Linked DNA regions of Homo sapiens. The protein of the gene in region 6 purifies or fractionates together with the protein of the main gene of each other region. This does not show direct contact. Each region holds a gene or a part of one and is shown on either strand. Other genes may lie near its edges.

The links.
Region 1: the proteins of FBXW10 (region 6) and LATS2 purify together in Homo sapiens (affinity purification with western blotting; one study listed by BioGRID). This does not show direct contact.
Region 2: the proteins of FBXW10 (region 6) and RBM47 purify together in Homo sapiens (affinity purification with mass spectrometry, with the first as the bait; one study listed by BioGRID). This does not show direct contact.
Region 3: the proteins of FBXW10 (region 6) and GALNT2 purify together in Homo sapiens (affinity purification with mass spectrometry, with the first as the bait; one study listed by BioGRID). This does not show direct contact.
Region 4: the proteins of FBXW10 (region 6) and PHGDH purify together in Homo sapiens (affinity purification with mass spectrometry, with the first as the bait; one study listed by BioGRID). This does not show direct contact.
Region 5: the proteins of FBXW10 (region 6) and ZC3H7B purify together in Homo sapiens (affinity purification with mass spectrometry, with the first as the bait; one study listed by BioGRID). This does not show direct contact.
Region 7: the proteins of FBXW10 (region 6) and AFP purify together in Homo sapiens (affinity purification with mass spectrometry, with the first as the bait; one study listed by BioGRID). This does not show direct contact.

The regions. Positions count from the first base shown.
Region 1 is NC_000013.11:20,985,087-20,988,586, forward strand, and holds part of LATS2 (serine/threonine-protein kinase LATS2), read right to left. Parts: coding exon 2,795-3,500; intron 1-2,794. UniProt on the Homo sapiens protein: Negative regulator of YAP1 in the Hippo signaling pathway that plays a pivotal role in organ size control and tumor suppression by restricting proliferation and promoting apoptosis.
Region 2 is NC_000004.12:40,437,865-40,441,364, reverse strand, and holds part of RBM47 (RNA-binding protein 47), read left to right. Parts: intron 1-2,440; 5' UTR 2,441-2,471; coding exon 2,472-3,500. UniProt on the Homo sapiens protein: Single-stranded RNA-binding protein that functions in a variety of RNA processes, including alternative splicing, RNA stabilization, and RNA editing. Functions as an enzyme-substrate adapter for the cytidine deaminase APOBEC1.
Region 3 is NC_000001.11:230,073,738-230,077,237, reverse strand, and holds part of GALNT2 (polypeptide N-acetylgalactosaminyltransferase 2 precursor), read right to left. Parts: intron 1-3,500. UniProt on the Homo sapiens protein: Catalyzes the initial reaction in O-linked oligosaccharide biosynthesis, the transfer of an N-acetyl-D-galactosamine residue to a serine or threonine residue on the protein receptor.
Region 4 is NC_000001.11:119,721,934-119,725,433, forward strand, and holds part of PHGDH (D-3-phosphoglycerate dehydrogenase), read left to right. Parts: intron 1-1,442; coding exon 1,443-1,508; intron 1,509-2,385; coding exon of another isoform or gene 2,386-2,516; exon of another isoform or gene 2,517-2,536; intron 2,537-2,851; coding exon of another isoform or gene 2,852-2,942; intron 2,943-3,500. UniProt on the Homo sapiens protein: Catalyzes the reversible oxidation of 3-phospho-D-glycerate to 3-phosphonooxypyruvate, the first step of the phosphorylated L-serine biosynthesis pathway.
Region 5 is NC_000022.11:41,300,242-41,304,324, reverse strand, and holds the start of ZC3H7B (zinc finger CCCH domain-containing protein 7B), read right to left. Parts: upstream 2,801-4,083; 5' UTR 2,553-2,800; intron 2,293-2,552; exon of another isoform or gene 1,956-2,292; intron 1-1,955. UniProt on the Homo sapiens protein: May be a specific regulator of miRNA biogenesis. Binds to microRNAs MIR7-1, MIR16-2 and MIR29A hairpins recognizing the 'ATA(A/T)' motif in the apical loop.
Region 6 is NC_000017.11:18,775,054-18,777,451, reverse strand, and holds part of FBXW10 (F-box/WD repeat-containing protein 10), read right to left. Parts: intron 2,317-2,398; coding exon 2,260-2,316; intron 2,089-2,259; coding exon of another isoform or gene 2,006-2,088; exon of another isoform or gene 1,960-2,005; intron 1-1,959. UniProt on the Homo sapiens protein: Probable substrate-recognition component of a SCF (SKP1-CUL1-F-box protein)-type E3 ubiquitin ligase complex which mediates the ubiquitination and subsequent proteasomal degradation of target proteins. Overexpression is leading to degradation of CBX5 and CBX1.
Region 7 is NC_000004.12:73,442,721-73,446,220, reverse strand, and holds part of AFP (alpha-fetoprotein isoform 1 precursor), read right to left. Parts: intron 2,875-3,500; coding exon 2,777-2,874; intron 1,229-2,776; coding exon 1,099-1,228; intron 1-1,098. UniProt on the Homo sapiens protein: Binds copper, nickel, and fatty acids as well as, and bilirubin less well than, serum albumin. Only a small percentage (less than 2%) of the human AFP shows estrogen-binding properties.

The DNA.
Region 1 (3,500 bases), on a different chromosome or scaffold from region 6:
CAGAAGAATGAAACTAGACCCCAATCTCTCACCATATAGGAATGTCAACTTAAAACAGATTAAAGACCTAGAAATAAGACCAGAGGCTATGAAAATATACTCCAGGACATTGGTTTGAGCAAAGATTTTTATGGCTAAAATCTCAAAAGCACAGGCAAAAAAACCCCAAAGTAGACAAATGGGACTATATTAAGCTAAAAAGCTTCTGCAGAGCAAAGGAAACAACAGAGTAAAGAGGATACCTGTGTTGAACAGGAGAAAATATTCACAAACTATTCATCTGACAAAAGACTATTATTCAGAATATACAAGGAACTCAACTCAACAGCAAAAAAAATATCAAATAATCCCATTAAAAAGTAAGCCAAAAGGCCAGATATGGTGGCTCACGCCTGTAATCCCAGCACTTTGGGAGGCTGAGGCAGGCGGATTACTTGAGGTCAGGAGTTTGAGACCAGCCTGACTAACATGGTGAAACCCCGTCTCTACTAAACATACAAAAATTAGCTGAGCATGGTGTCGCACACCTGTAGTCCCAGCTCTCAGGAGGCTGAGGCAGGAGAATAGCTTGAATCCAGAAGGCAGAGGTTGCAGTGAGCCGAGATTTCACCACTGCACTCCAGCCTGGGCAATAGAGCAAGACTCCGTCTTAATTAAAAAATAAATAAATAAAATAAGGCCAGGCGCGGTGGCTCACACCTGTAATCCCAGCACCCTGGGAGGCTGAGACAGGTGGATCATCTGAGGTCGGAAGTTTGAGACCAGCCTGAACAACATGGTGAAACCCTGTCTCTACAAAAACATAAAACTAGCTGGGCGTGGTGGTGCATGCCTGTAATCCCAGCTGCTCGGTAGGCTGAGGCAGGAGAATCACTTGAACCCGGGAGGCGGAGGTTGTGGTGAGCTGAGATCGTGCCATTGCACTCCAGCCTGGGCAACAAGAGCGAAACTCTGTCTCAAAAAGAAAAAAAAGTGAGCTAATGACCTGAATAGACACTTGTCAAAAGAAGATACACAAATGGCTAAGAGGTGCATGGAAAGATGCTCATTAACCATCAGGGAAATGCAAATGAAAACCACAATGAGATATAATCTCTCCCCAGTTAGAACGACTATTATCAAAAAGGAAAAAAAAGAAACTAAAAATAGAACTACCATACAATCTACCAAACCCATTATTGGGTATTTATCTAAAGGAAAGGAAATCAGTATATCAAAGGGATACCTGCACCCCATGTTTATTGCAGCACTATTCACAACAGTAAAAACATGGAATCAACTGAAGTGTCCATCAACTGATGAACAGATAAAGAAAATGTGGTCTGTGTACACCATGGGATACTATTCAGCCATAAAAAAGAATGAAATCCTGTCATTTGGAGCAACATGAATGGAACTGGAGGTCATTATGTTAAGTGAAATAAGCCAGGAACAGAAGTTCGGTTAGAACACCACACACTGTTACTGATATGTGGGAGCTAAAATAATTGATCTCATAGAGGTAGAGAGTAGAATGATAGTTACCAGAGGTGGGAAAGGGTGTGTGTGTGTTGAGGGGAGATGAGAAGTTAATTGGTGCAAACATACAGCTGGATAGAAGGAACAAACTCTAACTAGTATGACTATGGTTAGTAAAAATGTATTCAATATTTCAAAATAGCTAGAAGAGAGGTCTTGAAATGCTTCCAACACAGAAATGATAAATACACCAGGCAATGGATACTCTAAATACCTTGACTTGATCATTACATATCCTATGCATGTAACAAAATATCACATGTTCCCCACAAATCTACAAATACTATGTATAAATAAAAAATAAACGGCTGGGTGTGGTGGCTCACACGTGTAATTCCAGCACTTGGGGAGGCCGAGGTGGGCAGATCACCTGAGGTCAAGAGTTCGAGACCAGTCTGACCAACATGGCGAAACCCCCGTCTCTACTAAAAACACAAAAAAATGGCCAGGCGTGGTGGTAGGCACCTGTAACCCCAACTACTCGGGAAGCTGAGGCAGGAGAATCGCTTGAACCCAGGAGGCAGAGGTTGCAGCGAGCCAAGATCGCGCCATTGCGCTCCAGCCTGGGTGACAGAGCAAGACTCCGTCTAAAAATAAATTAAAAAATAAAAAATAAAAATAAAAAAAACACAAATGAAAAGTATATCTGTAAAAAAATCAGTGAATACGGGACACTGAAAAGAACACAAATCTGGTTTTCAGGCTTTGGAATTATTGGCTTTGTGTGATTTAAATCTGTTACATTTTAATTTAAATAGTTTCATCAATAATTACCTTCTTCAGCACTTCAGTGTCAACTAAGGTATATTTAAATCATTAGTTACTAACTAAACACTTAAAAGAATAAATGGAATCACTACTAGATACATTTTTCTTCCAAAATCCCACAATCTCAATTTACAAAACCTTAAACTTTGTTTCTACTCATTCAAATGTTCTATTATTAATCCATGATGAATTTTGTTAAGCGAGGACATACCCTAAAACTTAATTTGCTAATTTACCTACAATGTAAATTGTAGATTACCTACATTACGCTGGCTACATTATGCACAGCTATCTCTGATTCTTCAGAAGAGTCAAGGGGAAAGGCGAAAGGGAGGTCACACCATTTGCAACTTCTCCAAGTTGTTGGCCCCAGAACCAGACTGTCGCCCATTAGCCGTTTTGATGATAAGGGGTATACAGTCGAAACAGAAAAGGGATTGTGCGTGCTTCCTATTGCCAGTAGAGGGATGAGCCGGGAACAAATAGTAAAAATGAAGTGTGAAATTACTTTGGCCATTTCTTGCTCCAGCTGCAGCCTCCGGTTAACCTTCTGCTGGTAGGTTTTGATGACATTCTCCACGTGCTGCTCCATGAAGAACTTAAAGGCGTATGGCGAGTAGCTCTTGATGCGTGACTCTCTCTTCTCTTCGTCTCTGCTGTTTTTGCGGACGGGAACGGGAGAGGTCTGAATCTGCTTTTTATCCTTTCCGCCTTTGTCCCCCTTGGCGCTTTTGCGGCTCTTGTCGCCGCCCTCGGGCTCGTTGGGGCCCGCACGGAGGCTCTGCTCCATGCCTGCGCACAGGCTGTCCAGGTCGTACTGCTCCGACTTGCTGCGCAGCAGCAGGTGCTTCGGGTAGGGCGGAGGCGGGCACCTCCGGTCTGGGCCTCCGTACTCCACGTCCAGCGGGAAGGCGCCTGCGCCGCCCAGCGCCAGGGCATGCTCCTCCTTGGCGTCCAAGCCCTCCGCAGCCGGGGCGGGGGCGGGGGCGGGGGCCGGGGCAGGCGCGGGCACCCAGGCGGGGTGCGAGGGCCCCACAGCCGTCTGCGGCTCCGGCCTCAGCACACGCACGCTCTTCACCGGGTGCAAGATGTGCGCGGCCGTGACAGCCGTCACGGTGTTGGGGGCGGGCAGGGAGGGCTCGGCCTTGCCAGGCGGACCGGGCCGCGGCTGGTGGCTGTTGAAGGAGTTGGTCCTGCTGGGCACTGGGCAGTCA
Region 2 (3,500 bases), on a different chromosome or scaffold from region 6:
AGGAGGATTACTTGAGCCCAGGAGTTTGAGACTAGCTGGGGTAACATAGTGAGACTCTATCTCTATTTTAATTGGGATCTTTTTTTTTTTGGTTCCTTTTTTTGTGGAGAACGAGGTCTTTCTATATTGCCCAGGCAGGTTTCAAACTCCTGGGCTCAAGTAATCCTCCCACCTCTGCCTCCCTAAGAGCTGGGATTACAGGCACAAGCCACTCTGCCTGGCCCTCCATCTCTATTTTTAAAAAAAGAAAAAAAAATGTTTTTCAACTTGAAACTACAGAAACTAATTTTCCAAGTATACTACAAAAAAATTTCATGATAACTGGAGACGTCAAACCAGCTTCCAAGCACTTGAAGAGGAAAAAAATAATAAGAATAGAAGCCACGTGTAACAGATATTTTTAAAGAACTGAAGATGTTTATCTTAAGAATTACTCTAAAATTGAAAGAATTGGTCTAAGATTTTACTCAAAAGTTTGGATGAAATTAATAACTGACATTTCTTGAGCATTTATAATATTCTAGGCACCATTCAAAATGCTGTGTATGTATTAACTCACTCCTCTAAACTTAATGAGGTTAATACTATTATTATCATTCTGATTTTATAGGTAGGGAAACTGAGGTGAGGCATGGAGCAGCTAACACTAGCAAGTATTAGAGCTGAGATTCACAAACAAACATATGCAGTCTGGCTCCAGAAGCCACATACTTACCTGCTAAACTGTACTGCCGCTTGATATTAGAGCAAATTAACCACAAAAGGACTATTTTGGCCATCTGGCAAATAAATAGCTCAGATTTATTTTGTTTCATTATAGTTTTATTTTTTCCTTCAATGATCAAATTCATTTTTATTATCCTTGAAATTTCCCTTAATATTCTTGTATACATCTCCTAGTCCTAAATTTTAAAAAATGAATGATACTCCGGGTTCTAATTAATTGATGAAACCTTATATGGCCATTAAAAATGATGTTTTTACAAAGATTTTTAAGAATACAGAGGAATGCTTATAACATAAAGTAGCACCATGTAAATTAGGCGGAAGCCAGGCTTCCCCCTCCCACCTCCTCAAGAAAACATCTAGAAAACAGATGAGAAAGTTTCATTGTGCTATCATTGGGTAGGAAAATTAGGAATAATTTCTTATGTACTTTTCTTAACTTTCTATAAATTTAACTGAATACTTTTATAGTCCAAAAAATGAAATAGATTTCATTTTTTAAAAGGCGAATTGGAGCCTTTCATTACAGAAGTATAGTCTGCAGCTCATCGTAATAATCTTATTGCATAATTTAGAATCACTTCCACAGAGCCCTTGGCCATATAAGTGAAGGCGGCACAGTTCAGACCTGCACTGTGATACGTGGCTGTTTAATTAAAATTTAAAATCCAGCTCCTCAGTCACACTAGCCCCATTCCAAGTGCTCAGTAGCCACATGTGGCAAGTGACAGCTTTTCTAGCATCATAGAAAATTCGATTGCCCAGCATTGGTTTGGAAGAAAAAACAGGGAATCTGGAGCCAGAAAACTTGGAATCAAGTCTGCCTACAAGCTGACACTTGCTGTGTGAAATGGGGCAGTTTACTCAACCTAAGCCTATTTCCCCATGACCAAATTGGGACTGAGGATAATACCATGTACCATATACAGAGGTTAAGAAAATTAAGAGAATGCAGGTGACAGTTCTCTGAAAACAATAGTGTGGTTTACCAGGTAGATGCTGCTTCCCAGTCCCCCAGCTTGAAGTCAGTCTAGCTCTTCAAGGACTGATTCCAAATCTTTGAATGCTTCACACCAAGAATTTTACCTGAATGCCACCATCAAAATCAGATTAGCTCTTATTACAGTTCCTGGACCAAGCCCGTGGCAATGTGCACATTTCATTTCTTCCTTGTAAAAAGCTTTAATACACAGCTCTCTCTATACAATGACAGCTCCTAAAAGTTTTCTTTAATAATTTAAAATCTTCACTGTATTTCCATTCCTACAATTAAAAAGACTCCCTTAAAAAAGAAAAGAAGAAAGCTGTGTTCACCAAAGAAATACATGGAGTTTGTCAAATTCCATATAACAAGGAAATCAGGTGGAGTTAACGGTGCAGGAATGAAGCAAAAGAACGTGAGGTTTTTACCAAAAATGAGAGCAGCTTCGCAAAACTTCAAAGCTGTCGGGGTACTGATGAAATGGAAGTACTTGCTCATTCTGATTTTTTTTTTTCTCTCCTAACTCACTTCTGGTTTTTGCTGCAAGACAACTTGACTATTTTAGACAAATGTAGGGCTGCTGCATTTCCAGAACGCCTCCATCCTATTTCTCATTTAAACCACCTCCCCTTCCCCGTGGCCTATTAATGCATACTTGCAAGGCTGCGAAACACAACCCAAAAGAGGCAAGATCCAGCGGTTCCCCACTCACGCTTCTTTCTGCTTCCCCAGGTTTCCGCCAGCTGTGGATGCCTTTGACATTATGACCGCAGAGGATTCCACCGCAGCCATGAGCAGTGACTCGGCCGCCGGGTCCTCCGCCAAGGTGCCCGAGGGCGTGGCGGGCGCGCCCAACGAGGCAGCACTGCTGGCGCTGATGGAGCGCACGGGCTACAGCATGGTGCAAGAGAACGGGCAGCGCAAGTACGGCGGCCCACCGCCCGGCTGGGAGGGCCCGCACCCGCAGCGTGGCTGCGAGGTCTTCGTGGGCAAGATCCCGCGCGACGTGTACGAGGACGAGCTGGTGCCCGTGTTCGAGGCCGTGGGCCGCATCTACGAGCTGCGCCTCATGATGGACTTTGACGGCAAGAACCGCGGCTACGCCTTCGTCATGTACTGCCACAAGCACGAGGCCAAGCGCGCAGTGCGTGAGCTCAACAACTACGAGATCCGCCCGGGCCGCCTGCTCGGCGTGTGCTGCAGCGTGGACAACTGCCGCCTCTTCATCGGCGGGATCCCCAAGATGAAGAAGCGCGAGGAAATCCTGGAGGAGATTGCCAAGGTCACCGAGGGCGTGCTGGACGTGATCGTCTACGCCAGCGCGGCCGACAAGATGAAGAACCGCGGCTTCGCCTTCGTGGAGTACGAGAGCCACCGCGCGGCTGCCATGGCTCGCCGCAAGCTCATGCCTGGCCGCATCCAGCTGTGGGGCCACCAGATCGCCGTGGACTGGGCCGAACCTGAGATCGACGTGGACGAGGACGTGATGGAGACCGTGAAGATCCTCTACGTGCGCAACCTCATGATCGAGACCACCGAGGACACCATCAAGAAGAGCTTCGGCCAGTTCAACCCCGGCTGCGTGGAGCGCGTCAAGAAGATCCGCGACTACGCCTTCGTGCACTTCACCAGCCGCGAGGATGCCGTGCATGCCATGAACAACCTCAACGGCACTGAGCTGGAGGGCTCGTGCCTGGAGGTCACGCTGGCCAAGCCCGTGGACAAGGAGCAGTACTCGCGCTACCAGAAGGCAGCCAGGGGCGGCGGCGCGGCTGAGGCAGCGCAGCAGCCC
Region 3 (3,500 bases), on a different chromosome or scaffold from region 6:
AAAGCTCAACATCTAGGTCAAGGGGAAAGCCCCAGAGGCAGCAAGGAGGAAACAATGAGACTGGGAGGCATCCCACACTGGGCCAACCCTCTCATCATCCAGGACAGCCATACAAATGCCCCTACCCAACAGTCATCTACACTTACCCAAATACTGATAACAGAGTACTTAATTCATGGGCATCTCCAAAACACAGGCCTTTAATTTGCACCGGCTCCTCAAGCTCTCACAGGGCAATTTAGCTAAGAAAGACCCTTCATTTGAAGTGCGTCATTTTTCTAGGGCAGCAGCCTGTCAGAAAGAAAAGAGTTCACTCCCTGGACTGGTCTCTGACGCAGAGAGGAAGAAACCTTGATGGCCACTCTTGAATGTGAAGGCCTCTCAAATTACCTGTTCTTTTTCCCGCCATGTAAATGCTCCAGTTGTTTTATCCAGAAGTACACTGGACGCACGGTGCCTAACCATCCCAATGGTTTTATGGGATTGGTACCTACCAATCCGATAAAATATCTAATGACCCTTCATAAATGAGAATGGCCTCTATGAAAAGCACCTGCATGCCCTCACCTTGAGAACCAGGACCAGCCACAACTTCCCACAGTTCCGCCTCCCTGAGATTGGCCATGAAGTCACATCTCCATTTTACTGTCCCCAAGTACAATACTATCTATCACAGAAGCTCAGTGTTACCCACATTGCCAAGAATAACCCCCCTCTCCAAAGCCTGGGTATCAGGCAGGCATCTGATCTCTGGTTTCCTGCAAATATGAATCAACAAACCCCACTCCCACCCGCAGCAACTCCCAAAGATCACATCACAGCGGAAATCCTGTGCTGGAAAAGGTGCACAGGGACCCAGGGGGATTTCTCGTTAAACAGCAATATGTGCAGAAAGCACTTTAAGAATGTGTACTGTTCTTCAATGGTGCACCTAACAATGAATGACTTACCCGATGCTTGGTGCTTCACAGAAGTCAGCTCAGGAATCAAGAAATGAGATTGTTCCACAAGCATATCCCACGAAGCTGATCAGCAAATTAAACTGCTGGAGCAGTCTAAATTAAAACTGCCTCGAGCAGCTGCAGGTCTGTAGTAAGGGAAGCGATTATGAGAGTACACACAACCTTTTAACCAGGATGCATTCATGCCTCATCGAGGAGACCAGAACAAGAACAGGTGACCAAGATGTCTACAGCATGGAGGGAAACTCCACCACTAGCCAACCAAAGGCAACATCCTTCGGGAAAGAAAACTGGCTCATTTGTTTAGCAAAAGAAACCAAGGAGTAGAGAGATCACCGAAAAAGAGGCTGGACGAAGATGAAACCAGGGGCTACCTCTGAAGCAGAGGGAACCACAATGGCTCCCTCTTAGTCTCAGCTCCAATCCTGCCTTCCCCATGAGCCTACGTGATCACCACTTTAATACTGCAACTATCCTTCCGCCCTCATCCCTAATCCCCATACACTGCTCTATTTTTTCCACAGCACACAGCACCTTTCTGCACACGACGTAACTGACTTCATGTCTACTGTCTGGCTCCCCGCAGCCCCCCACTAGAATGAAAGCTCCAAGACCACAAGGATTCCGTGTCTGCTACAACAACTGGTGTACTCCCAAACACTCAAGCAGTGCCTGGCACATAGGAGGGTCTCAAGAGATACTCACTGAAAGAATAAATGAAAAGAACCAGAGCCAGTTTTCATCTCTGCTCCTTCCGGAGGGGCAGCTGAGGATTGCGGCCTTCAGGACAGGCAGAGGCCTGGAGGGTAGGAACACAAATTCCATGGAGCAAAAGGTAAAAATGAAGAAAAGAGCAGCCGGGCACGGTGGCTCACGCCTGTAATCCCAGCACTTTGGGAGGCCGAGGTGGGTGGATCACTTGAGGTCAGGAGTTTGAGACCAGCCTGGGTGGTGAAACCCTGTCTCTATTAAAAATACAAAAATCAGCTGGGCATGGTGGTAGGTGCCTGTAATCCTAGCCACTCAGGAGGCTGAGGCACAAGAATCGCTTGAACCCGGGAGGCGGAGGTTGCAGTGAGCCGAGATTGTGCCACTGCACTCCAGCCTGGGCGACAGAGTGAGACTTTGTCTCAAAAAAAAAAAAAAAAAAAAAAGCAAAACAGACCAGCACTACTATCAAAGCATTATCAAGTGTGCATCTGCTCCAAGATGCCTTCCAGGAACTTTCCAAATGAGGCCGCAGTATGAGGGCACTGCCAATGCAAGGAAGGGGCATGGGAGGCCCAGGGAGCAGGAGCAAGCCAGGTTCACTGCTGGCTGGCAGAAACCCTCGGCCAGGAGTTGCAGAAAAACCCCACTGCCTCCAGAGGCCCTGAGGAGATCTCTTCCACCAGACAACCCTGGGTCTGCCACCTGTGAGCTCTGTGACCTTGGGAAAGTCACTTAACCTTTCTGTGCTTCAGTTTCATCAGTACACTAGAAGAAATAAAAGGGCTGAGATGAAATGCAGCCCTTTTATTTCTATGCACAGTGAGTGCCATGAAAGTGTTTATTAAATTTTGAAAATTAAAACGTATTAATATATTAGCCCTCCCCACAGTGGTTCACCCCAGACCACACAGAAAGGCAGTCTCATTACAAGAAGGTCTAACCATAATGGCTCAGACAGAAGGAATGAAATCAAAATTAACGGACTAAGGCAGTGGTTCTCTACCAAGGGCAATTCTGCCCACCTCCCACCCTCGCCAGGACACTTGGCAATGTCTGCACATTTTTGGTTGTTACAACTTGGAAGATCAGGGGTGGGAGAACTACTGGCATCTAGTGGGGAGAGGCTGGGGAAGCTGCTACACATCATACAATGCAGAGGACAGCCTTGCACAACAAAGAATGATCCAGCCCAGTGCAGTCGCTCACACCTGGAATCCCAATGCTTTGGGAGGCCAAGGCAGGAGGACCGCTTGAGCCCAGCCTGGGCAACATAGTGAAACCCTGTCCCTACAAAAAATTTAAAAATTAGCCTGCTGTGGTGACACATGCCTATAGTCTTAGCTACTCGGTAGGGTGAGGTGAAAGGATCACCTGAGCCCAGGAGTTTGAGGCTACAGTTAGCTCTGGTTGTACCACTGAGCTCTAACCTGGGTGGCAGAGTACAACTGTCTTAAAAAAAAAAAAAAGCCAGCCAAAAATGTCAATGGTGCCAGAGTTAAGAAACTGAACCAGAGCAACCACAGTCCCGAAAGTACCCTTGTCCCTGCCCAAATGCATGTCCTGACCTGAACTCTGGAAATTCAGTAACTCTACCCCCAACCCTCCTGGCCATTCCTCTTCCCTAAGAGTTAGGGACAGAAAACTGCCAGCCATGGGCAGGAGGAGGTGGTCAGCAGAGTGGCCTAGGAGAGACTCTCTGTTCCATGGGGAGCTCCTGGAAGGCTGCGGCAGAAGGGACAGTTGACCAGGGCAAGCAGCCAGCAAGGGCAGGCTGAGCCATGAGGGATCGGCCCATTTCCCAGCCCCCAGGCAGCCAGCCCTTAACTG
Region 4 (3,500 bases), on a different chromosome or scaffold from region 6:
AGTGCTGTACTGTACCCGTTCTGTCACTTAGATGGTATGGCAAGGCCATCCCCAGGCCTCTTTGTTCTTAAGACTTTTCTCTTCCCTTGGGGACTTCATTGTCCTTAAGACCTTTCCCCTCCCCTGCACTGCACTTCCCCCTGTAGGGTAGAGGTTAATTGGTCACCTGACTGAAGTCAATATTCAACAGCAGAAATGTTAAACGATAACCCATCCCACATTCTTGCCTTGGACCCAGAGGCAGCCAGGCCCCAATCTCTGCACCTCTACTTGCGCCCCCATACAGCCTGTTTGCTGTGGGAGGATGAGAAGCCAGGTGGTTTTGCAGGCAGACAGACTCTGAGAGTCCGTTTATCTTATACAGGATCTCTTGACTTTTTCTTCTTGTAACCTTATTAACCTTCATTCCAGAGATGAAAAAGACAGACCCAGTAGGGGAATAATCAGGGTGAACACGTATATGAAATTCTTTCAAAAACCTAAAAAGCATTTAAGAAAAGAAAAATAGTTTTGTGGGTTGCCACCTCTATTTTTTTGTTTATAAAATGGGAAGGGTCTGGATTGCCCTGTGACTTAGGGTGTGAGGAGGCTTTCTCAGTTCAGAACTTGTTGAGAGATAGGAAGAGTAGTCAGACAGGTGGAGATTACTAATAAAAGCTAGGTTGGGGCTGCGTGTGGGGGCTCACACCTGTAATCCCAGCACTTTGGAAGGCCAAGGTGGGAGGATCACTTGGGCCCAGGAGTTTGAGACCAGCCTGGGCAACAAAGTGAGACCCCCATCTCTACAAAAATACAAAAAAAAAAAAAGAAGGAAAGAAAAGCCAGGTATGTTGGCACCAGCCTGTAGTCTCAGCTACTGAGAAGGTTGAGCTGGAAGGATTGCTTGAACCCTGGGAAGTCAAGGCTGCAGTGAGCTGTGATCATGCCAGTACACTCCAGCCTGGGTGACAGAGCGAGGCCTTGTCAAAAAAAAAAAAAAAAAGCCAGGTTGGGTAACTTGATGAAGATATGTAGGCATTGGACTGAGCCCTGAATTCGAGAGACTCTGACCTTGGTAAGATCAATGGTAGGAGCAGCAGGGAATTTGTGCTTTCTGGAGGCAGGTAGATCCTGAAATAGGAGAAAGAAAAGGGCTGAACCACACACAAATCTGATCATGTGAGACACTTCTCTGCCTTGGGAGGAGTGTTTGGATAGAGAGAAGCCAGATATGTTTCTCTAATGGAGGTCCCTCTGCAGGGAAACATAAAGCCAGGGGAAGGGGGTTTCTTTCCAGCCCTTGGCTTAGGGCGAGAGTACATCAGAGAACTCTGGACAGTGGCGTGGTCAGTTCATGGAGCAGGAGTGAGAGAACACAGCCTGCACTCAAGGCTTTCTCTTGGGGAAGGAGTGGGAATACTGGGTCTGTGCCCATTGATGTCCCCCTTTTCTTTGATCTTTAGCACCCCCAATGGGAACAGCCTCAGTGCCGCAGAACTCACTTGTGGAATGATCATGTGCCTGGCCAGGTAAGTCCCTGACTTCTCAGCAAAGCTAGTCTCTCCGATATGCCAATTATTACCACTTGCCAAGCAAATGGACCCAGAAAAACTTAGAAACATTTCGTCTCAGCGACTTGCAGACTGCTAAGAAGGCGACATGCAGACTGCAAAGAACCTTTAAGGCCATCAGGTCCTCTATTCAACATTCATTACACAGGTTCCCTAGTGCACAAAGGTGCACTTCTCTTTACTCATGTTCTATTCTCCATGCTGCAGACAATCTGCCTTCTCTAGCCTCCAACTCTTGCAAATGTTCTCCATACCCTGCTGCCTGGAGATAACAAGGAAGGATGTTCCAGGCAGCAGGGTATGGACAGTGTCTAGGTACCCTCTGCTTACTTTTCAAGATTAAGCTTCAGTATTAATTTATCCAAGAAGCTCTCTGGCTTTTCCAGCTAGGCTATGTCCCTCACTGATTCCCCTGGCCCTCAGGGCTTATCTCTGTCACTGCCCTTACAAATCTGTATTGTAATAGAATGGAGTAAGAACCTGCTTCAGGGTCCTTGTGTGTTCTGTGGGTTCATAACACAATGGAACTCAAATGGGCAAGACTCTTGCTCTTCTAGCAGGAGTTCCAGGCCTCTTGAGTGGATGGGGCAGCCTAGAAATCAAATGGTTGTGGCACAGAATGTGCTTGAGTCTCAGTGTGTTGGTTAGTAATTTGGCAAAACTGATTGCATGGAGCACTTCTGTTGAACAGGCAATTCAAGCATTTATGTGGTCAAGGGGAAGAACAAGGCTCCCAATAAACAGGGTAGGAAGTTGTTCTAGGTCCCTTTGAAGCTCCATGGATTCCCTAAACCAGCGGACCTAGGCATCAAGGACTCCTTGTTTCTCTACTCAGGCCTGAAACCTTCCGGGACCAAGAAATTACTTTTCCCATGGCGAGACCTGCTTTCCCTCCTGCTGGAGGAGGATCTGGGGGAATTTACCTCTGCTCTAACTCCTCCCTGCAGTTTCCATCTGAGCTCTCTGGTATTCACTGATATTCACTGGTAGGTGAAAGGAGGCAGTGGGGGGAAAGGAGAAACAGGGATAGCTTACACAGCAGTAGGGTCTCAGCCTAGAAGGGGCCCCCAGGCTGGCAGCCGGGTTCTCCCAGAACATCTAGGCTGAGTGTCTCTCCCCCTGGAGAAGTACAGAAGCCTGGCACCCTGGTTTCACTTCAGCTATTACCTTCAGGGATTTTTTTTTTTTTTTTTGAGTAAGGGAAAAGATCTCAATGTGGCTTTCTGATTAATTACCTCACTTTTTTTCTGGAGGTGGAAGGAAAGGATTGGGAGCCAGCAATACTTTCCCTCCTTTTCCAGGACCAGCTTTGTTTAAAGGAATCGGTGAAATGCTGTGGTTTAAAAGAAGCTCCCCATTGTCAACTGCTCACCATGACCTCACTCATCAAAGGTGCATCAAAACTAGGAAACACGCACACCCTATTGGGAAGGAATGCGTTCGTTTCATCAGACTGTTCCTAGCAGGGAGGACGGTAGGAGAGTGTGGGTGCCTATATGTAGACTCTACAGGATTGGGCAATGTGGGTGGAGAGCAGGCGTGGCTGGGCCTCACAGTAGGGACTTTGAGCAGATGGCGGGGGCTCCTGAGGTGCAGAAGAACAGCACACAGAAAGGAAGGAAGGAGAGAATCAACAAATGTAGGTTTCACCATTTTTGCCTGCTTTACCATCTCCTCCTCTAGTAAGTCAGGCCAGCAACCATTTAATTATTGTGAGGACCCTCGCCCACATTAGAGTCCTCTCCAGTCTGGCCTGATGAGGATTCCAAAGCATTGAAACCTGGAGAGGCTCCATGATCAGCTGGGAGCAGCAGCCAGAGAAAAGGGTTAGGGATTTCTTGTGTTCTGTGGTGCCGCACGCATACATCTTAGATAGCACTGTGGAGTCTGGTGGGAAGAAAATAGGATGTGAGGGAGAGGAGAGAGGGGCCAGGTGGGGCTCTGTCTCAC
Region 5 (4,083 bases), on a different chromosome or scaffold from region 6:
TGAACCCGGGAGGCAGAGGTTGCAGTGACCTAAGATCATGCCACTGCACTCCAGCCTGGGTAACAGAGTGAGACTCTGTCAAAAAAAAAGAAAGAAAGAAAGAAAGAAACTTGCAGCAGCCAGGTGTGGTGGCTCATGCCTGTAACCCTATCCCTTTGGGAGGCCAAGGCAGGAGGATTGCCTGAGCCTGGCAGACTGAGCTACAATTGTGCTACTGTACTCCAGCCTGGGTGACAGAGTGAGACCTTGTCTCAAAAAATAAAAAGAAGGCTGGGCATGGTGGCTCACGCCTGTAATCCCAGCACTTTGGGAGGCCGAAGTGGCTGGATCACGAGGTCAGGAGATCAAGACCATCCTGGCTAACACGGTGAAACCCCGTCTCTACTAAAAATACAAAAAATTAGCTGGGCGTAGTGGCGGGAGCCTGTAGTCCCAGCTACTCAGGAGGCTGAGGCAGGAGAATGGCGTGAACCCGGGAGGCGGAGCTTGCAGTGAGCCAAGATCGCGCCACTGCACTCCAGCCTGGGCGACAGAGCGAGACTCCGTCTCAAAAAAGTAAAATAAAATAAAATAAAATAAATGAAAAGTAACTTGCTAAGGTGGCCCAGGACTCTGGGAAAGGGTGACGATTTGGAGCCAGAAAACTGGGTGGGAATCCTACCTCTGCTGTCTGACTTTCCAGCAAGACACACAATTCGGCCTAAGGTTTCTTATCTAGAAAATGTCTACCTGACACAGTTGCTATGGAGGACAGATGAGCCAACACATGTGAAAGCCCTTTTGTTATAAACTAAAAAGTGATATTTGAGGGATTATTATTTTCAGATTGAGGGATTATTTTCAGATTCTCTATCCATGTCTCAACCGACATCTCAGCTTTCCTACTAAGACTCGAGAGATCAGCACATCCCACCAAGCTTCTAAGCCCCACAATAATCTACCAAAACCCCCATTCCTGTCTAACCTATACAAAAGCCAGCAGCTAAGAACACACAGCATCTACAGAACAGAAACTTTATCCCAGCTCAGGGACAACAAAGTCTCTCTCCCATCCTCAGATCTCATCCCTCCTGGACAGGTTCTTTCTTCCCACCTTAAGTCTCCCCACTTCTCAAACATGCTCCATCCAACTGTTGACCAGGTGTCATTTCCACCTTGCAGTCCAACTTCTGTGGGAGGTGGACACGGGGAAAGAAGACCACCACGGAGGGGATGGCTGTATGTGTGTAGAGGAAGTATTGGTAGTAGAACTAAAGATTCTGCCAGCATTTTGTGTCCAACACAGTTGCTACATGTACTATAATTATCTCATTTGTGTGAAAATTCAAGGATCTGCATTCTGCTATTTTCATCAGGCTGAACTGCAGATGCTGAGGAATATGGCAAGAAGTTGGGGTTCAAAGTCTGATGCCAAAGCTAGCAACCCGAGAAATAAAACCGCTGATCACCAGCTCCCCACTCAGGCCCAGCCCCCTTTTAGAGCCCCCAGACTCCCCACGCAGGGCCCTAGCCCCCTAGTCTTCCCCGTCAATGCCCTGTTGGCAATACAGCCATCAGGTTCTATCAGAGTGAGCTGTTTTTATATGATTATTTTCCCCCCTGGGAAGACGGCTTTGTCTGTGAAAGTCCCCCCAACCAGGCGCCTTATAAACGCCTAAAACAGACAGAGTTGAGGAGAAAGGAGGGGAAAGGAGGAGGGAGCAAACCCGGAGGGGGGCCCTGAGGTTCGCAGCGGGCAGGATGGGGGTATGAGGCCGGAGTCGGCGGCTCCCAGGCCCCCAGCCCCGTCAGGGCGCCCCCGTCCCCAGGCGCCAGAGCCGGGGTCCGCAGCCCCCTAGCACTCCCTGGACGGCCGCGGGCCTCCCACAGGCCTCGAAGTCCAGAGACTGATCCTGCGACCGGAAACGCCCCCCTGCCCAGCAGGCCCAGACCGCGCCCCCCTTTCCTGCCGCCCCCTTCCCGCGGGCCCGGCTGCAGGCCCCGGATCCCCGGGCTCGCGTGGCCGCCGCAGCCGAAAGGGGCGGCCCGTCGGGCGGCCCCGCTCCCCGGCCCTCGCCGCGGCCCCTCCAACTCCGGGTGCTGCGGGGCCAAGGACAACACAAAAGGAAGGGGGGCCCTGCCAGCGACGCCCCTGCCAGCCCCCGAGACCCCCTGCGCGGGGTCGGCAAAGCATCTGGACACCCCAGAAGCTCCGGACGCCGAAGAGAGAGGCCCCACGAAAATTTCAAGACACCTCCTGGGGGCTGCAGGGGCGGCCAAGTCTCCCCAGCGCCAGGTGCCCCCGGCCACACGGTAACTTTTAAACTTTGGGGCAGGGCACGGGGACCGGGATCCCCAAAAAGGAGCAAATGGGGTTTTAGAGACGATTTATTTTTTGCAAAATCCCACTTTCCAGGTGGCCCGGCGCGCGGCCCCGGCCTGGAAAGGGCTCTCTTCGCCTCTTCCCCAGCCCTGCCCGGCCCGGGCGTCCCCGAACCCTCGCGCGCGGGCGGCTCCGGACGCAGTGTCCCCGGCCTCTGCCCCGCGGGGCTCGGGCCGCGCCAAGCACTCACCTCCGCCGGGCTGCGCTCCCCGCGGGCCTGCGCCGAGCCCGATAAATGGTATGCTATGACTAGAGGTATGATTACGTTATTATTATTAGTAATAATAAGAGTAAATGCTATTTAATTACGGGCGGCCGCATCCTGCTCCCGGCGCCGCCGCCCCGGCAGCTCCGTCCATGTGGCTCTGGAGCGCTTTACTTTCATTTCCAGCCCCTCGGCTGGCCGCTCGCGGCAGCACCCGCTGGAGGCACTGTCTCCCTGCAGCTCTTCCTCCTCGGGTCCTAGAGAGCTCGGCTCCCGTCGCCTCGCCGCGCCCGGGGTGGGCGGCGCGGGCTGCGCACCTGGGGAGAAGGGCGGGGGGCGTGGGGGCGAGTCGGGGAAGCCCCATTCCCCGTCGAAAGCTCATGCCTGGAATTCACCTTTATTTTCTTTAAAAGTGTCCTGCCTTTTAGGGGGGTTTCTTTTGGCAGTTCTGCATTTCTGGGCTGATGCTGCTCAAACCCAGCGCCTCCGCCCTTCCCCATCTGTGTCAAAAGTCCCCCCGCCCCCCTTCTCCGGCTTCCAGGTGCTTTCATGGAAGGCTGCCCAAAACCCTGGTTGCGTTGTGCCCTTCTCATAGATGGGAACCGGAGACACATAGAAGAATCAGGACCTCACTTGGCTGGAGTTTTATGTATAGGATGTTAAAAAAAATATTGAATGACACTTGTTAAAGACTACAAGGCCGACTTTATTGGCATCATGATGGGTGTAGGGACCACTGCAGTGGGTTTTGCGGTCAGGGAGAGTATTTGGGCTCAATTCAGAAATCAGCATGGGCAACTGGGAATTTATGAGGAAGGAGAAAGGATCCACTGATTGAGCGCCAGTGCATAGGAAACTGCATCAGAGATGAGAGGATTCTCGCTTAAACCCATCTAACAAGATTCTTGCTGAAGGCAGGGCAAGGTGATCAGACATCACCTGGGGAATGGTGGAAAATGAGGAACCTGATTAGATATTGACAATCAGGGCTGGGTGCAGTGGCTCACGCCTGTAATCTCAGCACTTTGGGAGGCCAAGACGGGTGGATCACCTGAGGTCAGGAGTTCAAGACCAGACTAGCCAACGTGGTGAAACCCCATCTCTACAAAAATACAAAAATTAGCCAGGCGTGGTGGTGGGTGCCTGTAATCCCAGCTACTCAGGAGGCTGAGGCAGGAGAATCACTTGAACCCCAGAGGTGGAGGTTGCAGTGAGCCAAGATCATGCCATTGCACTCCAGCCTGGGCAACAAGAGCAAAACTGTCTCCAGAAATATATGTGTGTGTGTGTGTGTGTGTGTGTGTGTGTGTGTGTGTGTGTGTGTGTGTGAGTTCCCAATACCCCCTAGGCAATTTACAATGAAACACCCTTGACAACTTATCACATTTACCACCATGGTTATTATCACTCTCATTTCATCGATGAGGATGCTGAGGCCAGTTGGATTGCTGCATTTTGCCTCAAGTGAACTAGATGGCAAATGGTCTGGTGATTCCACCACCCCAGGTTGCTGGTG
Region 6 (2,398 bases):
ATTATGTTGCAAAATTTGATCTTTACCTTATTAATCAAATTTGACTCCAAGTAATCTTGAATGTTGCCCAAAATAAAACCTGTCTTCAGGCTGGGTGCGGTGGCTCATGCCTGTAATCCCAGCACTTTGGGAGGCCTAGGTGGGTAGATCACCTGAGGTCGGGAGTTCGAGACCAGCCTGACCAACATGGAGAAAACCCGTCTGTACTAAAAATACAAAAAAATTAGCCGGGCGTGGTGGCAGGCGCCTGTAATCCTAGCTACTGAGGAGGCTGAGGCAGGAGAATCGCTTGAACTCAGGAGGCAGAGGTTGCGGTGAGCCGAGATCACGCCACTGCACTCCAGCCTGGGCAACAGAGTGAGACTCCATCTCAAAAAAAAAAAAAAAAACTGAGTGAAATCAAGATGTCAAAATCTTCCCTATTCTCCTTGCAAACTCAAAAAGAGAATTTTTCTCCTTTTATAAAAAAAGGAATTGTGATGAGCTCATTGTTTATTAATTTGTCTTTTTTCAAATGATAATGTATTGTGGATCTCTTTCCAAGTTAGTATATACAGATCCTCATCATACAATTTTTAGCTGTATATAATATTCCATACAATAGATTTTTTTATTACTTAGCCATTGCCCATTGATGGACATTTAGTTTGTTAATGGTCAACCTAGAAGAAAATGCGGACCCCATTTTTACTTATACAAGCAACTACAAAATGCCAGCTAACACCCAGAGTTGGCACAAATGCAGTGGGGTCTCTCATATATTGCAAGTAGGAGTGTAAATTGATACAGTATTTTTCAGGACAACCTTGGCAATATCTTTCTAGTTTTTGAATGCACTTATCCTTTGGCTTAGCAATTTCACTCGTAGGACTTTACCCTTCAGGTATACCTGTACAGGTACACTGACATAGGTATATACAAGGATGCCCATTGTTAGCGCAGCCCTCATAAAATAATTGTTTTCCCGTCAACTTCAAACCAGTCTCTGCACAGAGTTTGTTCCAAAGAAACACTACTATACTAGCCAAAAATATTTGAAAGACATTTTAAATTTTTACCAATGTCCTTAAAAAATAACAAAGGGACATCCCAGTCATGAGTCATGATGTCCAGAAACTTTTTTTTTTTTAAACGGAATCTTGCTCTGTCACCCAGGCTAGAGTTGCAGTGGCACGATCTCAGCTCACTGCAACCCCCACCCCTCTCTGGTTCAAGCAATTCCCCTGCCCCAGCCTCCCAGGTAGCTGGGATTACAGGCACATGCCACCCTGCCCAGCTAATTTTTTTATACTTTTAGTAGAGATGGGGTTTCACCATGTTGGCCAGACTGGTCTCGACCTCCTCACCTCAGGCAATCCGCTCATCTCCACCTCCTAAACTACTGGGATTACAGGTGTGAGCCACCGCGCCCGGCCACTTTTTTTTTTTTTCTTTTCTTTAAGAGGCAAGGTCTCACTGTCACCCAGTGGTGCAATCATAGCTCACTGTAACGTCAAGCTCCTGGACTCAAAGGATCCTCCCGCCTCAGCTTCCTGAGTAGCTAGGAGGTGCGTGCTACCATATCTGGCCAATTTTTTGAATTTTTGGTAGAGACAAGGGTCTTGCTAAGTGGCCCAGGCTGGCCTCAGACTCCTGGCCTTAAGGAATCCTCCCAACTTGGTCTCCCAAAGCACTGGAATTACAGGCATGAGCCACTATGCCCATCCTAGCAACACTTCTTAAAAGGTGCATCCCCATCTCTCTTTCTCCCTTATCTCTTTATCTCACATATATAGCACCTGCCCCAAATCTCTCTTCTTCCTAATGAAGTCTCTTAAAATTCTCTCTGAAACCAGCCTCAACTGCCTCTTCTCTCTTTTATTGTGCCCATTTCTCAGATTGATGACATAACAGTCCAAGAAGTGAGGAAGCTGGCAGGGAACAGAGGCAGGCAGTCAGCCAAAAACTGGAAACGCAAACCTTAGAAAGGTTCTCCCTCTGTGGCCTCAAGTCAGAAAAGGGACAATTAAGGAAAACCAGTCACTCTTGGGAGAAGCCAGGCATTGTATTCATTCCAGTTTCTCAAAGACAAGCAAAGGTAGTGGCCTGCTGGAAAACAATACGAAACTAGAGTGAGAGAAAGAGTTTGGATCTTGCCACTAATTCAGAATTAAGTATGACTTTTTGTCTTATCTCCTGCTGTGGATTTTGCTTCCAAATTCTCCTGCCCACCATCCGTGCCACTTGTTCCCTTATGAACAGAATAAACTCTCTTCTTACCATCTCTTCGGGGTGATTTTGACTTTCCTTGACTTTGAAGTTCCTCTATTAACACTGCTAAATTGAGATTGAGGAAGAAGCTGTAGTCATTATATACTTCGATTAGGGCATAAAATAATATAATCAATAATAATGGGGC
Region 7 (3,500 bases), on a different chromosome or scaffold from region 6:
TTTAGAAGAAAAACAAGTAAAGTAGTACAGTCGCCTGCCAGGCTGCCTCCTCCCACTTCTTCCCCAGCTCCTCAGGGACTGTCACTCTCAGGCCTCCTCTGCAGCCTTGGCTTCTTGCTTACTTCAAGCATCTCACTGAATTGCCATCGGATGGGCTGAAATGAGCATTTTATCTTCACTTTCAGCCTTCTGGAAACCATAGTCCAGTGCTGGTTATCAAGCCATTTGAGTACCTAAGAGCAGTAATTTTTAAGCTCCTTGGATTTTAATCTCTTTGGTATGTCATGGAGCCCACAGAGACAGAGTAATCTGAGGGTCAACAGTCCTCTCTTGTAAAATCTAGGAAGTCTAGGGTTAGCCAAAATAAGCCAATGCCACACTGCTTAAACCACCACTGACTAGAGCACACTCAAGAAACTGTTGCTGGGTTTTTTAAATTTTGTTTTCTAATTCTCCGAGACCACTTTATTCACACTTGTCTTTGGCAAGGCTAGCTTTTTACCTGGTAGGACAGTTACTTGTGCAATTTTTATTGCATTCGTTCATTTAACAAACTATTATAGAATGCCTTCCATGTGCCAGGCATTGTGCTATGGAGATAACAGTAAACCAAGGCAGTCCCTAACTCCAAGGAGGTCACTGTCTTATCTCTCCTATCAGACTGTGAATTCCTTGAGGTCAGCCTGTGCTTTTAAAACAAGTGTCTGTCATAGTGGCTAGCAGATAGAAAGTATTTAATATATATTTATTTGTCAAATGAAAGAATAAATGAATGAAAAAATAAATACATTAAACCTTAGTTTCCTCCCGTCCTCCAAGTAACTATGGAGAAGCCTTCTGAGAAGTTCCCACGGTTTTTTTAGAAGTAAGAAATAGATGAGCCTTGGTTTCACAAAAAGGGGTATAGCTAAAGTGAAAGCCAGGATCAACAAAAGATGGTTTAAGTTTTACTACCGAGAATTCTGCAAATTTAAGGAGTCACCTAGTTTACATACTCTGTAACCAATTCAAGTCAAACAACCTTCTCCCTTTTAGAATGAGACAAAAAGAAAGAAAAGGGAGTGAAAATCTTCTATTTTAAGAAGCAAGACTCTTCACCCCATCCTGCAGACAATCCAGCACATCTCCTCTGCAACAGTGCTCATGTACATGGGCCACATCCAGGACTAGTTTCTGGATTTCAGTAAAATTAACTTTGGTAAACTTCTGACTCAGTTTAGTAACAGTTCTAGGGAAAAAAAAGAAATTAGAAATTAATTTCTTGGTTATCTGTCAAAATAAAATAGAATTTATAGAGTATTACTACAGTAGAAGTTTCAAAGAGAAATGACTGAAATTCCCTTGTTGTTTAAAAAGAAAAGGAAACATGTTTTAAGGCTTGATTCCAGCCATATCTTTCAAGGTGGTAGCTCTGTAAACTGTGAGCTGGCCCCACAAATGGTTTAGAAATAATTTATCTTTTCCTAAAACATGTCTTAAGAATTAAGGTAAATTATTTTTGCCATTCAACCCTTATGCTGAGCATTTGTATTGAGTGGACATAAAACTTTAAAAGGATAAACAATTAAGAAATGGAAAATTCCATGAAAATGAGAACCATTTTTTACTGGGGTAAAAAATACTTCTGAGAATCCAGGAAAGGAGGCGTATGTGCAAATCAATGAAATGGGACAAGAAAGTGGAGCAGATTAAACATTTCAGGCATACCAGTGTGCCAAGAGAGTAATGTGGCCAAAAAAGAAGTAAGAAATAAAAATTCTGGTTTCCTCTGCATATTTCATTAAATTTTAAGAGTTGTCTTTGTAAAACCATTGCTCCTAGAGAAAATAGTGTTACTCCTGCTTCTGATAAAGATGGATCTTCTCTATAAATTTAGACCACTTAGCTTTCACTTATGGATAGCAAATGATAAGGGTATTATAATACTATCTCAATTTCTATTTTATTACTAAGATAAATTTTTTTAAAGTAGGTCATAAATTAATCTTTCAATTTCTAATTGAGTTGGAGGGTAGTTAAGGCATAAATCTGACTTCTTACAAGAAGAAATTTCAGTCTTTAGAACTAATTCTATTACTAAAAACTTCATTCTAGATTTCCATTGTCTACAATATGCTTTAACGTGTTATTTAACCAAACAGCAATCAAATAAACTCTGAATATATATACTTACTACTATTCGATTAGCAGCTCAGATATTTTCATATACTAGAAATGTTTTATCATAAAAGAGTTGATGAGTACTTTAAAGAAGTTATATAATTTAAAATGTTCTTTTCTCCTGACACTAGATTCTAATATTATTGCCTCAAAGGAATATTTTTATGGGAAGCAATAAATGCTATAAAGAGCCTTATAGAAGATTAAGAAACACAATTAATATAAAGAATTTCTTGTTAAGGCAAAAGTTTTAAATGACACTCAGTGAAGGCTGACTTATTTTGTAGAAGAGCTAGAAAAATATGGTCTAGTGATGAGGTATAATTTGATGGCAGGCCAGAACTTAAGTGTCTTAAAGAACAGGTAAATAACATAAACTTTAAAAGTCTTTTCTATGTATTATCTCAGCTAGGCTTTAGTAAGTGTTAAACTGACTTATCCGTTAGCTTCCTTCTGATCCTAAGAGTTCATGGTTCTAATCCCATTAGCCCTCATCAAAGGGGTCACAAAGGGGTCTTCATTCTCTAAAACAGCAACAATTAAAAAAACGAACCCAAATTGCAAAATGGTAGTTCTGTAGCTCTCACCCTCTTCCCTAGATAGAACTTGAACTTACATGGCTTGGAAAGTTCGGGTCCCAAAATTTTTCATTACTGCACATGCATGTTGATTTAACAAGCTGCTTTCTCTTAATTCTTTTGTAACTGTTGCTGCCTAGATGTAGAGGAAACAAAATGTCATGAAAGCATATACTAACATTTTCTTTACAAGCTCTAATATTTAGAAAAACAACAAGTATAGGTAAAATGAAATTCCATAAAATATGTTTTTTACTAAAAATTATAAATGTCATACATTATCGCAGAATATTATTGACTCATTTATTCTTTTGGGTTAGTTTATATGCATCTGTGCCAGACAAATTTACTCAAAGTACCTTGAAACAAAAACATAACTTTTATACTGGGGATCATAAATGAACAACTGTACCTTTAAACAGCTTAAAGACAAATTGAAGCCTGCTAATTTCTTAAGTGTCTTCTCAGTTACAAAAAATACGATTGTATCACGGCTTGACACTGAGAGTAGTCAGTTCTCAGGAAATTTTTGTTATAGGACTGCTGGTAGCAAGTAGTTAATGGTGGATATTATTCTACCTCTCTAAACCTAAAAAAAATTTTCTTCTCTAAACCTCTTTCCTAGTTTGTTAAAGGACAAAAATACTTACACCTCAAATTTGTTCTAAGGTTTAAAAAAACAGTAAGTATAAAGCATTTATCATAGTTCTTCATTTTTTCTCTCTCCTCTGCTCCTCCTTTTCTCCGTTTTCTTTCACTTAC